Regions from separate parts of the Homo sapiens genome. Here region 2 is linked to region 1. The links come from fine-mapping of genetic effects on gene expression. Tissue or cell type: thyroid. Region 1 holds a variant in brackets; the other region holds the start of a gene. All regions are shown on one strand. Distances are from middle to middle.

Region 1 (6,120 bases):
ATTATAGGTGTGCACAGTTGTTACACACACAGATAGCAAATTTGACTAGGAACACTATGTTTCTATCACTAAAATACTTCATGAACAGAAAAATAGAAAAAGTATAGGCAACACAAAACTCCCCCCAAATCGATAATTTGGGGAAAACATAAAATGTTATGCTTATTACAAATAGAAATAATTATTTATCAGTGCTAAATGTGAACAAAGAGTCATTTAGCTTGATAATGTTTAAATAACATACACTTATATTCTTGAGAAAGAACATGCCTTAATATGAACAAACTTGATTTACTTTTATGCTTTTCTCACTCTTGTGTTATTTTTCAGAAAGACAAGATTAAGTATGACATTATATTACCCAGTCACACAGAAGCCAAATTAGCATTTGGATATCATCTTGAGAGACAATTACCAAGAGCCTTGTATTTCTTGGCAATAAAGCTTGCAAGTGAGGTCTGAATATGTGACAAACATGCTTTATTCACCCTATAGGGTGAAGAGATTTAGGAGCAACATATTTTAAAAATGAACAAAATTTACATATGAGATTTCTGGACCTCGGAGCCTATGTTCAAGAAACTCAAAGAAACTGAAAATTGCAATTTTTGGTCGAACAGTAGCTATTCTTGTGATTTTAAATAAACTTTATGATTGGATATATATACTTATTTATGAGAAGGTAGAATATGATTTTCAAAAGATAAAACTGACTTCTGAAATTCAGAAAAAAACAATGAAACATCTGAAATTTTGGGAGCCATTTTCAGACCTTCTTAAAGGCCTAACACTTTGGTTTACAAAGAACTCTAATGACTGGAAGGGTGGGAAAAAGCAAAATGAGTTCACTTTTAAAAAGTCTTTCTCCTTTGTTAGAGATCCATTTTCAAGATTAATTTTGGGGGACAGAATCAAATTGCTCAACACATCAACAGATATTAAATCTTGGATGGCTGAATTTCTGGTTGTTGACTTTCATAGAATATCATCTTTTCCAGGCTACACAAAAAAGATGCACACTAACTTTTGAAACGAACCTAGATGGCGTCTGAAGCTGGCGACTCACCTTCTTCACCCGCATAGGCCAGAATGGATCGTGCTCGTATCTGTTTCCCTTCTGTCGTTTTCCCTGAGCAGGTGTGTGAGCAGGAGGACCACGTAGACCATGTGCTGAGCACACAGTCTTTCGGGCATGGGGCATCACAGGCCACAGGGATGGGGAAGATGGCATCTCTGCACAGCTGTCTGTCAACTTCTTCTCCTGGGGAAAACATGACCACCAACAGCTATTATTGTTAAATTAATGTAAAATGAGCAATTTAAACCAGATGGGCACCCAGATAAGTTACATTATCTTTCTTTTGCTCTTACTTAAAAAAACGTAGCCAAAAGAGGGATTGCCTACTATAGCCAGATGTTAATAGAACACCAGGAACAAGCATATATACACACATATACACTCATGACCCTAAATGAGGCTTCTTTCATTATCAGGGTATATCAAGCACATTGCTGAGACGATTCTTATGCCACAGACACCTGCCCATTAAGTACTAATTTTTATACTTGTACTCTTAAGTTGTAATAAGGAGCATCAACAAAGCATGTCCCCTCTTTCTTTTTTGGAGATGAGCTATGATTTACAAATAATGACTCTATCCATAGCATCTATCATATGTTTTCATGAACCAACTAATAGGTGTCTATTTACAAACTCTCTTGTGTCTCTCAGAGTAGTTATTTTCATACAATTGGCAACCTTCTTCTTTCGTAAAAAATTGTTTGTTAGTTGGAAATAGACAGGAAATGTAAATGATGGGATAACATTATAAAGTCACTGCTTAAGGTGATCCCAGTTGGAGAGGGAGGGAAACAATAGAAAACAAACAAATGGCAGAAGTAATGTGATGTCACTCCAGTGCTTAATATTTTTCATTAGTTCCCTGTTGCTCTTAAGATAAAGGGCAGATTTTTCAAGTTTACAAGACCTCGACCTCAAATGACCTCGCTGTGTTTCTCTTCCTAGCCTCATCTCACTTCACTCCCTCATTTTGCCCTTGACACTCTAGAGATTGGCCCAAAAATGGACACTTATTTAATATTTGCTGAATGCGTGAAATGAGATATATAAAAGGCCAATGAGAAACAAAACATTGTTGCTGTTAATAAATGCCAAAAACAACCAACAGAATAACCAAAACAGGGTAGGAGAAAAAGTCTGAACTCTATGGTTTAGTTGATTAATATAGGTGGTTAACGAGGTCAAGGGAACAGAACAGAATGAAATCATACACAATCAAACAAAAATTAACCTGCTATTTTGGCACAGAATATAATCATAATTCTGGGTGAATATATAAAAAGTGTGTGCCTCGCATTAGGCATTCAGGTGAGAAAGGGTGACTCACCTTGCCATTCCTTACAGAGGCTACTGAACAAAATAGTCCAAGCTGTTTCTCACTTGGGGAGTTAGGAGCATCATTTTAATGTACACTCCTTTATTCATATGCTTTAAAAACAAGACAGAAAATCAGAGTAAATTGCAAATGCTCTAATATGTTAATAGCTACTAGCTTGCAGAGCCTTTAATCATGAGACAAAAATCAGAAGTCAATTGGAATGCACCTACGTGTTAATAGCCATTACATTGCAAGGCCTTAAATCATTAGACTTACTCACTAGTAAGTAAAGAAGGCTCATTAAAATTGCAATTGAGTAAATATTTTATTATTCATTCTTATTTAGCTACTCTAATCTGTGGGAGCTCTCAAATTTTGTTTTTATTGGTGTTGGGTTTTGGCATGTATCCCAATTAAAAAAATGTACTAAACAGATAGTAGATATATAGGTACATAGGTAGAGTATGAAAATCATTATTGTATAAGGCATTTAATATTTTA[C/T]ACTTGACATAATAATGATGACTCTTTTTTCTACTAGGCTTTTTCTTAGTGCAAGGGGTGCTCTCTTATATCTTATTTTCTTCACTGCTGTCTTTTATTGTACCATCTACCTTCTCTCACTTTTGTTTCCAATATTCTGTGGAAAGCAAGAAAAGTTTGGGGCTAAAGTCTATAGCTAACAAACGTCATATTTTTATTTATCCTCTAATAGTTACCTAATCTTTTCTATTCAGAAAAATATTTATTCTGTGGCAATGCAGACTTTGCTACAAGGGTGCCATTAGATTAGCTTGCCTAGCGTAAGTAATGCATTTTTGTTTGTTGTCATGTAAACCAAAGAAATGTGCAATTTTGACCTTTCTTCTAAGTTATGCTTTTTTCCGCACTCCCCCTGCCCCCCATCCGCCCAGTTTGTGTCCCATATCTTATTTTAGCTCTTTTTCAATCATCTTGTTCTGCTTGGCCAGGTGTACTTTCCTGTAGGATCACTCCTTCTACCACCCTTAATCCTCTGTGGAGCTATTAAGACCCATCTAAGATCCAACATCTGAGATTTCCCTGATGGTTTTAGAATGATTTCTGTACCATCCCCAACCCTTCCAGGTATGATCTTGTCCCTTTTTACTGTTCTGATCACTGTCTCACATTTAGGTTGAAGCTTTATGTTCTGGCCATAATGACTTTTTTCCCTTTCCTCCTGCAAACGAAGCCCATTGTTGTCTCAGCAGTTTTGCACTTTCTCTTCACTTTGTATGAAAATTTCAGGTCTTACACAGAATCCTGTTTTTCAACATTCAGGTTTCAGTTCAATTTTCTCCTTCCTAGAGGAGATTTCATTGACCATACACACTCTCCCAGTCACTTCAGTTTATTTTCATTATACTTTTAATCACCACTAGAAACTATTTTAATTAATTGGTTAATATGTTTATTGTCTGACTATCACTAGACTAAATGAGGGTGTTATCCGTATCTGTCTTGGTTGCTACTTCATACTTAGAACCTAGAATAGTGCCCGACACGTAGGAAGCACTAAATCATTTTTTGTTAAATAAATACATAAATTTTAAGTTGTGCTAGGAAATAGAATGTTGGTCTAGACAAATAGAGATCTAAGCACAGTATTTCTTGTCATGCATTCGAGTGCTCTAGGGCCTCCCGAAAGTGTATTTAGTGGATAGCAGCACATGCATCCCCTGGAGTTTGCTGGAAATGCAGCCTCTCAGACTCAACCCACTGAATCACAACCTTAATTTTTTTTTTTTTTTTTTTTTTTTTTTTTTTGTGGAGACGGAGTCTCACTCTGTTGCCCAGGCTGCAACGCAGTGGTGAGATCTTGGCTTACTGCAACCTCCACCTCCCAGGGTCAAGCGATTCTCCTGCCTCAGCCTCCCATGTAGCTGGGACTACAGGCATGCACCACCATGCCCGGCTCATTTTTGTATTTTTAGCAGAGAAGGGGTTTCACCATACTGGCCAGGCTGGTCTCGAACTCCTGACCTCATGATCTGCCTGCCTCAGCCTCCCAAAGTGCTGGGATTACAGGCATGAGCCACCGCACCCAGACTCAACCTTCATTCTTAAAAGATCCCCAGGTAATTTCTATGCATATCAAATCTAAGAAACAATGCTCTAGAATTTTTCTCCATTTATTGTCTTCTGGTTTGATTAGAACCAGATTGTCTCTTGACAGGCAGGTATGTAAAACAAATTCATCTGGACTTCATACCTAATAGCATTTGCTTCTCTGTGGAGATTCTCCTTATACTTCTCTTCACACAGAGTATCCATGGCTGAAAACATTTATTCAATGAATAGTTGCTGAATGCCCATCTTCTGTCAGGCACTATGCTAAGAATGTATGAATGTTGTATACATCACCTCAGCTAATTCTCACAATAACCTTTTGACATCAGTATTACTATCTATTTTTTACTTTAAAAGAAATTGAGACTCAAAAAGGTTAAGTTATCTTTCTCAAATAGCAAAAGTTTGACTAAAGGAACAGAGAATTGAAATGAGTTTTCACCAATACCCCAATCTGCTTTTGAACTAGATTGGGGTTCTTCTTGGTGGAGAACTGAGGATGCCAAGGCAGTAAATAATAGATAAGGCTTTGCCTCCAAAGAAGTCAAGAAACAGGCACTCTCAAGTTGTTTGTCAACACAGTGATGCATGTTGCCAGCCACACAGTGCTTCAAATACAAAGACATGCATTGTTGATGAGTCCAGTGGGACATGTTTTGGCTCATAGCCATTGAACAAACAGCAACTGATCTATGAGAATATGGAATAATTAAATTTTTGATTTTGCTTTCAATGAATGCTTTAATCAACTCAGCTAATTGGAACCCTTAGGAGCTGTCTTCTTTTTAAGCTAAATCTTCAGCATTCCAGGCATAAGTCATCTGGGAAACCATAGGCAAATAAAATCAAATAAAAAGTTGGGTCAATGGCTATTACAGGCAACTTCATAACTTGTCAATTCCAGCCACTTTTTGAGGCTATTAATTTTATCTTACTTATAAGGTTAATTGAATCTTACTTATAAGAACTTACTCTACTCTTAAGGTCTTACAAGAGTAGCAGAAAATAATTTCATCCCTCTTCCTCACATTAAATTTTGTTTTGGATTGATACACTTTATTTTGATTGGATAAGAACTGTTTTGCATAACATTACTTCAGAGTATATATAGGAGTACATTAAACACGCACATATCTAAATATCAGGTTAATTTATACTCCTCTATTTGGAGAAATGGAAGTTTTGCTGCCTAGCACTATGGGAATTCCACTTTTTCATATCAGCAGCCCCACAGTTAGGACATATTCATCCACCAGATGTCCCCACTATAGAACTATTTGAGACTTTGATTATCCAAGTGTGCATCCCATTAAATCTGGACAGACACATCTGATTATCACTACTGTGATTTGTGTAGTTCTATCACTGGTGTAGGTATGAACCAACGCAACTTGTTTTTCTTCTTTAGTCTCTCTGAGGACAATTTCTTAGCTAGATTTTGACTGTGATGTCACAAACATTTAGAATCCTCCTTATGCTTCTCTTCGTGTATTCATATTAAATATACTATCTTTTTTGGCATACATTTACAAACATAAATGGTTTCAAAGGATTGCTTTGCATTTATATAACTTTGTTTTTCTCACCCACAAAGGTCTAGGCATTATAAACAAACCTGCCAAAATACAGAACA
Region 2 (6,120 bases), 350 kb after region 1:
TTCCTCGTGATTTTCCAAATGTCATTTCCTTGTCTCTAGCTTACTTTATTGTAACAATATAGTATATAATACATATATAAAATATGTATTAATTGACTGTTCATGTTATCTGTAAGGCTTCTGATCAATAGTTGGCTATTAGTAGTTAAGTTTTGGGGAAGTCAAAAGTTATACATAAATTTTCCACTGTGCATGTAGGTCAGGACCCCTAATCTGTGCATTGTTCAAGGGTCAACTTTATATACCCTTATTTGTTGTATATATGTATTTATGTGTGTATTTATAATATATGTATCTGACATATGCATTCATATATATGAAGCCCTTTAGGGGTTAAAAAGGCCCTTAGATATCATTTTATCTATTTAATGAGTATTACAAAATAGGAAGCCAAGAACCAAAGTCATTAATGACTTTACCAAAGTTCTACAGCATGTTAGTAACATACACAGTTTGAGTTCCTGTCCCAGATCTTCATCCAGTGTAACAACTTTCACTACATCATTTTAATTCAATAATCTCACCATTAATATGATTCTCTATAATCCTCTGTACCAAGACCAAGCTTACCCCATTGGAACAGATATTTTGGAGTATGTCACCTCTTTTCTCTTCCAATTCCCTTCTTGCCTCTTTATTTTCATCAAGTGATACACACATAGTGATTCTGTAACTTCTAAATTTTCATTTATGGTATATCTTTTTTCTTTAAATATTCTCTAGTTCTTTTGAGAACTACGTTCAACTCCTTTACAGATATATTAAAGTCTCCTTTCCCTTTGGTAAAAAAAAAAAAATAAAGAAGTCATTATTTTGCTTTCCAATTGAATGAACTATTTTTTTTTTTTACCAAACCAAGGATCACCAGTCAAGAAATATCTTTAACATCCTCATCACACTAGCTTACATTTGCATACAGCTTTGAAGTTTACCAATCACTTTCTCATAACTCATGTGATTTTCACACACTGCAGATAGGCAGAAGAAGGTGTCATCACATTTACATGCAGTTGAGAAAACTAAGGGTCAAAATTTAAGTGAACTGCCAAAATTCCTACAGCTAGCAAGAGCTAGGACTGGCACTGGAATCAAGGTCTCCATATCATTGTTTCTGAGAGCTTCCCACTATTTTAAACTGTTTATTGGCTTGTGTTCCTACCATGACATTTATGATGACATATATTGACACCTCAGATGCTGTACAGTGAATGTTGGCTGGGCTCTTTTCCATCTGAATTATTGCTTGGCTCTTGTTACTTTGCTAGTATAAATTTCAACTAGGCAACTACTATTTCATCCTACACTGACTTACCTAAGAAGCTCTCCCCAAGCATCCATATGATACCATTTAATGGTAAATTATAATTTGATTAATGTTTGTCATTATGAATGTGCTTTTAACAAGTAAAACCCTAGCTTACGCTAAATTAGAGATCTTCAAATCTTCGTTTCAAATTGAAGTAAATTAATTTTATTTCATTTGAATTCATTACTCAACTGATCTTCAAACTTAAGGTGTTAGCAAGAATAATCTTGCTTTTTAAAATGTGTATATGTTTCATGTAATCTTCTAAGACAAATTGTGTACTTTGACTTTAAATAAATTTCTGTTTAATCTCCTCACTAAATTTCTGGATAGCTGCAACTTCTTTAAAAATTCCAGATATCGATAGTGATGCAATTGTAGAGTAGACTGAGCTGTCTCTTCAGTAGTGGTGCAGAGATGGGCTGAAGCAGGAAAAGACACTCACTCCCTGAAACCTGTTTGCAACCCCATGACGAATACATACTTTCCCTTTCAACTACAACATTCTCTTAATGTTTGGCATGACCAAGTTATTCTTAAATTACCCCCTAGCTCTAAGCAACAGGAATAATCTTTTCCCATTTTATTCCTATGAACATGTGAAGTTTCAGGTCCCCTAAGGAATTCTCAATGTTTTTTTAATGCAGAGAGAAAGCGAACCCGCAGAAAAGGGGTTGGTAATTCCTCACTCCGTATTGTTTTCCTGCCTGTCACGGCCCCCGCCAGAAACTCCAAGCATTTTGCCAATGGGTAATGATGGGCAGTTAGTAGCTGCTTTTGTTGGGTGGTTGAAAAACAAAGCAAAACAATTCTCAAGGAAGGAAGAGAAAGTTTGAACCCAGACATCCTAAAAGTTGTACACTTTAAAAATCCTCCGACTCGCTAGTTAATAATTGAGTTTTCAGTCTTTCCCTGAAGGCTCACTGGAGCCCCATTTGCCTTTAATTGTTGGAACCGCCCTCACTTGGCTTGTTTCTGAGGTGTCCCACATATCACAAAGCTAAAGTTAACAAATTCAACTCTATATCCACAAATGTCATGACAGTGAGCATATTGCTTTGCCTAAAGAATAAAGACTGAGACTAAACTCTTTGCTTGTTCTTTGCTAGAAATCTGTTTGAGAAACTCCTAGTAGAATGAAAATCCAGGGGTTAAAAATAATGCACTTCATCATGGAAGTGCGCGTTGCCCTCATTACAGAGCTGCGAGAGAAATATTCCAGCTACTCACTGTTGCCTCTTAGTTGTTATGCTTTTCTTTCCTAATTGCATCGGACATGACCTATTTGCTTCCTAAGAAATCATACTTTTTACCTTAGGATACCAGCATAACCAAGCCATCCAAAAGCACCGGGGTCCCTACAGAAGCCCACCAGCTCCTTAATGTGGCCCCAGATGTGAAGATGGGGAAAGGGTAACTCCGTCCCACTTACCAGTCTTCCACAGATAGAGGGTGGGCGCCTCCGCCTCGCCCTGCGCCGCAGCCCTGCCGGCGCCCGGGCGTAGCAGCAGCAGCAGGAGCAGCGGCAGCGGCAGCGGCAGCGGCAGCAGCTGCAGGACGCCCCGGCGCGGCCCCGCAGCGCCCCGGCTCCCGGACGCCCAGCGCCTGGCTTGCAGCCCCATGCCGCCTGCAGCCACTCCAGGGTCCAGAGCCGTAGCACGCTCGGCAGGGAATTTTTCTCCGCTCTTGGAACGTCTTTTCAAAGAGTACAGAAAGCAAAGCTCTTTCCTGCTATTGTTCGCTTCAGATGAGAAGGAGGGAGAGCGCGTCTAACACCAGGGAACAATAGCGTCCGCGGTGGTGGCCGTGGCCGCTGCCGCCGCCGCCGCCGCCTCTGGCGGGGATGCTGCTGCCGCTGCCATTCCTCGCAGAATGGCAGGTCCCGGCGGCTCCGGAGGCAACTGTCCTCAGGGGGCCCCAGCTGACTGAGCAGGTCTGCTAGGTCTGGGAGGCAGCGCAGCCCCCGCCAGCTGGAGGGGGAGGAGGGGGGCGTGAGCCCAAAGGAGCAGAGGGGGCTGGAGGCAGAGGGAGGCGAGAGCGCGAGGGCGAGAAAGGGGGCGAGCAAAGGGGAGAGGGGCCAGCCAGGCGACACCCACCTCCGACATACCCGCCTAAAGAACTCCGGTGCACATGGTGCGATGAAATATGTTTGGAAGGATGCACCAATAAAAAGAATCATCACCCGGCAGATTTCAGAATGACAAATAACAGGCATTGATATTCACTGTCATCCAAGGAGTCAAATGCTAGATCTAGTGGCATGCTATTCTTAGTACGTATTTACACAAAGCATCAGTGTTTATTATCTATTTTTAAGCCATGGCTTCTGAATTACTTTGTGTGGGGAGCAGTATTTGAGATCAGGTGTGAAAACACGAGAGCAGAAATGTTGACTTGTCAAAATGCACTTAAACCCTTCTTTAAATGTTGTTTTTAACTTAATCTATTATCAATAAAAATATGAGCAATATTGATGCTCTGTGACAAATTAAATTGTCTTTTAATAGCCTTTAAAACTGAATTAGTGTTAATGAGTATTTGCAATGCTACCTAATTACATAAATACAATTGTACAAAAAAAAAACCCTTAAAATTAAAATTATATTTCAGGTATAGAGTTCTGTCCCTTCATCTACTTCTTTCCCTCAAAAATATGCTACTTCTAAGTATTCAGATAGTTGTGAGTCAAACTGAGTCAGTAATGCTGTCTGGATATCTTGGAATTAGTAAATTCTTCATTTAAAATTTCCCTGACACCGATTTTTCTTAACTCTTACTGTAGCAAAATGCCTGTCGCAATCTAAATAAGGAACCACATGTGTTTGCATCTTTTGTCCTTTGTGTTTTCACTTTCTTCTACCAGTAGTAATAGAAGAATGTGTGTGAAGTCGGATAATGCTTTCCCCTTTCTCCTTCTCCCTTTAGCTAATAATAATATATTTTATTATTAATTCATTTCACAGTAAAGCTAAAATAGTAGGCATTTAACCATTAAAAATTCAGCAAACGGAAAGCCAAAGAAAACTACTATCCCATCAGCAATTTTCAGCCAAATAAAATAAAATTTTAAAAGCAGGAAAACTACTTTTTATGAATTTACTCCAACATAGCTACCCTAGAGTTTAAGATGAGGAAGCTACTCTTTCTGAAAGAGGAAACCTTCCATAAGGCTCCCTTGGGACCCTTGTCATTTTGCAAAGCCTTCCAGACACAGCCCCTCTGCATGCATTAGATTAAAAGCGGGTTTGATCAAATAATTCCCAGGTCCTGCCTGTTTAAGTATTCTGACATCAGAGGAAATTAGCTACGTTGAAGGTTGCAAATTTGGTCTTTGTTTACTTTCCGCTCTGTTAGGCCTCTAAGAAGGAATTAAAAGCTCAGAGAGCCCGAGCGCTGTGAGTCTGTGATTAGGAGAGATAAGCTAGTGTGGCTTACTATTTCTTCACTCGTGAAAAACAGGCAACAATCAAAAGATTATAGGTTGATAAGGAATAAAAAGGAAGCCTGATCTTAACTAATGTATGGTTCCCTGAAGGATCACTTCTTTTGACAGTTACACCACAGAAGGAAATGGGACCTGCTATTGCTTCCTGGGTTCTGTCGTTTCAGGAAAATTTCCATGTCCACTCCACAAGGAATCATTTTCCCATCCTTTCTGCTTGTATTTCTCAGCTACTGTTAGTGCCCTAAACCTTGAAATCCTCTAACTCTGGCACAGGAAGTATTTCAAACTGGACATACTCTGCTAACAGCAGCCATTCTACGCATTCGTGGGAAGCGCCAATCAATTCACCAAGTGGGAATTCATTATATAACAGAGGACAGAGAGTCTGAGGAATTAAGTTAATGTGCAAGGTCATTTACCTAGCCCTTCAAAAAGCCATCCGACACTATACTTAATAGCTTATTGTCAAAAGAAATTTTAAGATTCTGACCTTTATATTTACCCATGGTGGTATAATAATAACTCAACTTGTCAAGAGTGTAAACATCATAGCTACAAATTCAAGCATTATACGGGGTCAATTTCTAGGTTCCAATTTGCTGCCATTTACAATACACAATTATGGTGATATGTTCTGCAGTACTGTTTCAAAATAGCCAACATTTGGTTTCCTTCTTTCAATTTCAACGTACACAAGGCCTAGGAGTCACACACACACATGCACATACACAAACACACACAATCATCAGCAAAGATATCTCTGAACAAGGTTAGAGAATCCAAGTCATATAAACATTTGTCTCCACACCTGCCACACATTTGTTCATAACAATGTCATTATTGCACTTGAGGACAAAAATGTATGGGTCTCTGAGGAGACAAAAGTGATGTATATATCCTGATATGTGTTCCTTTGTGAAAGGTATAGTGTCTAGGTAGATAAATCCTATCAATAAAACTGATAGATGGCAAGAGATAGCAAGACATAGCAATATTTGTTTCCTAGAATATGACATAAATAATAATACACAAATGTTTAATGACATGATGTCAAAATTTAGTCATGAGAAGTCTCAAGGATGCAGATTAAATTGACCATCTGTACAGCCTGCCATGAAGTAAATCGTTCGTCATTTTTCATGGAGAACTGTTCAAATATTAATGAGCCAGTGCGATAAAAGTTCTCCAAACCAATGAATGACAAATGCAAAGCATATTTTTTTAATATTTAGAAATGAAAAAATTCTAAACTTATCACCTCTCATGTGATAGGTGTCTTTATTCTGCCTCTATTAATTTTGCTATCATTTCTAAACTCCAGAGGTAAGGATGTGAACATACCTATACACATCTGTTTTCTCTTTTATTA

What was found. PIP is the estimated chance that this variant, and not a neighbour inherited with it, causes the effect.
Region 2: THSD7A starts here. The variant in region 1 is fine-mapped to the expression of THSD7A in thyroid (GTEx, PIP above 0.99).

What each region holds. Positions count from the first base shown.
Region 1 is chr7:11,480,722-11,486,841 of GRCh38, forward strand. It overlaps THSD7A (thrombospondin type 1 domain containing 7A), which reads right to left. Exons shown (of 28, transcript NM_015204.3): 7 at 1,067-1,261. Among named protein-coding and RNA genes, the nearest start is that of THSD7A, 350 kb to the right of the region's middle. The variant C/T (reference allele first, on the strand shown) is at 2,901.
Region 2 is chr7:11,829,019-11,835,138 of GRCh38, forward strand. THSD7A (thrombospondin type 1 domain containing 7A) reads right to left here and starts at 3,180. Exons shown (of 28, transcript NM_015204.3): 1 at 2,739-3,180. The coding sequence starts at 2,928. RefSeq lists a silencer at 925-1,219 and enhancers at 2,777-3,317, 3,318-3,857.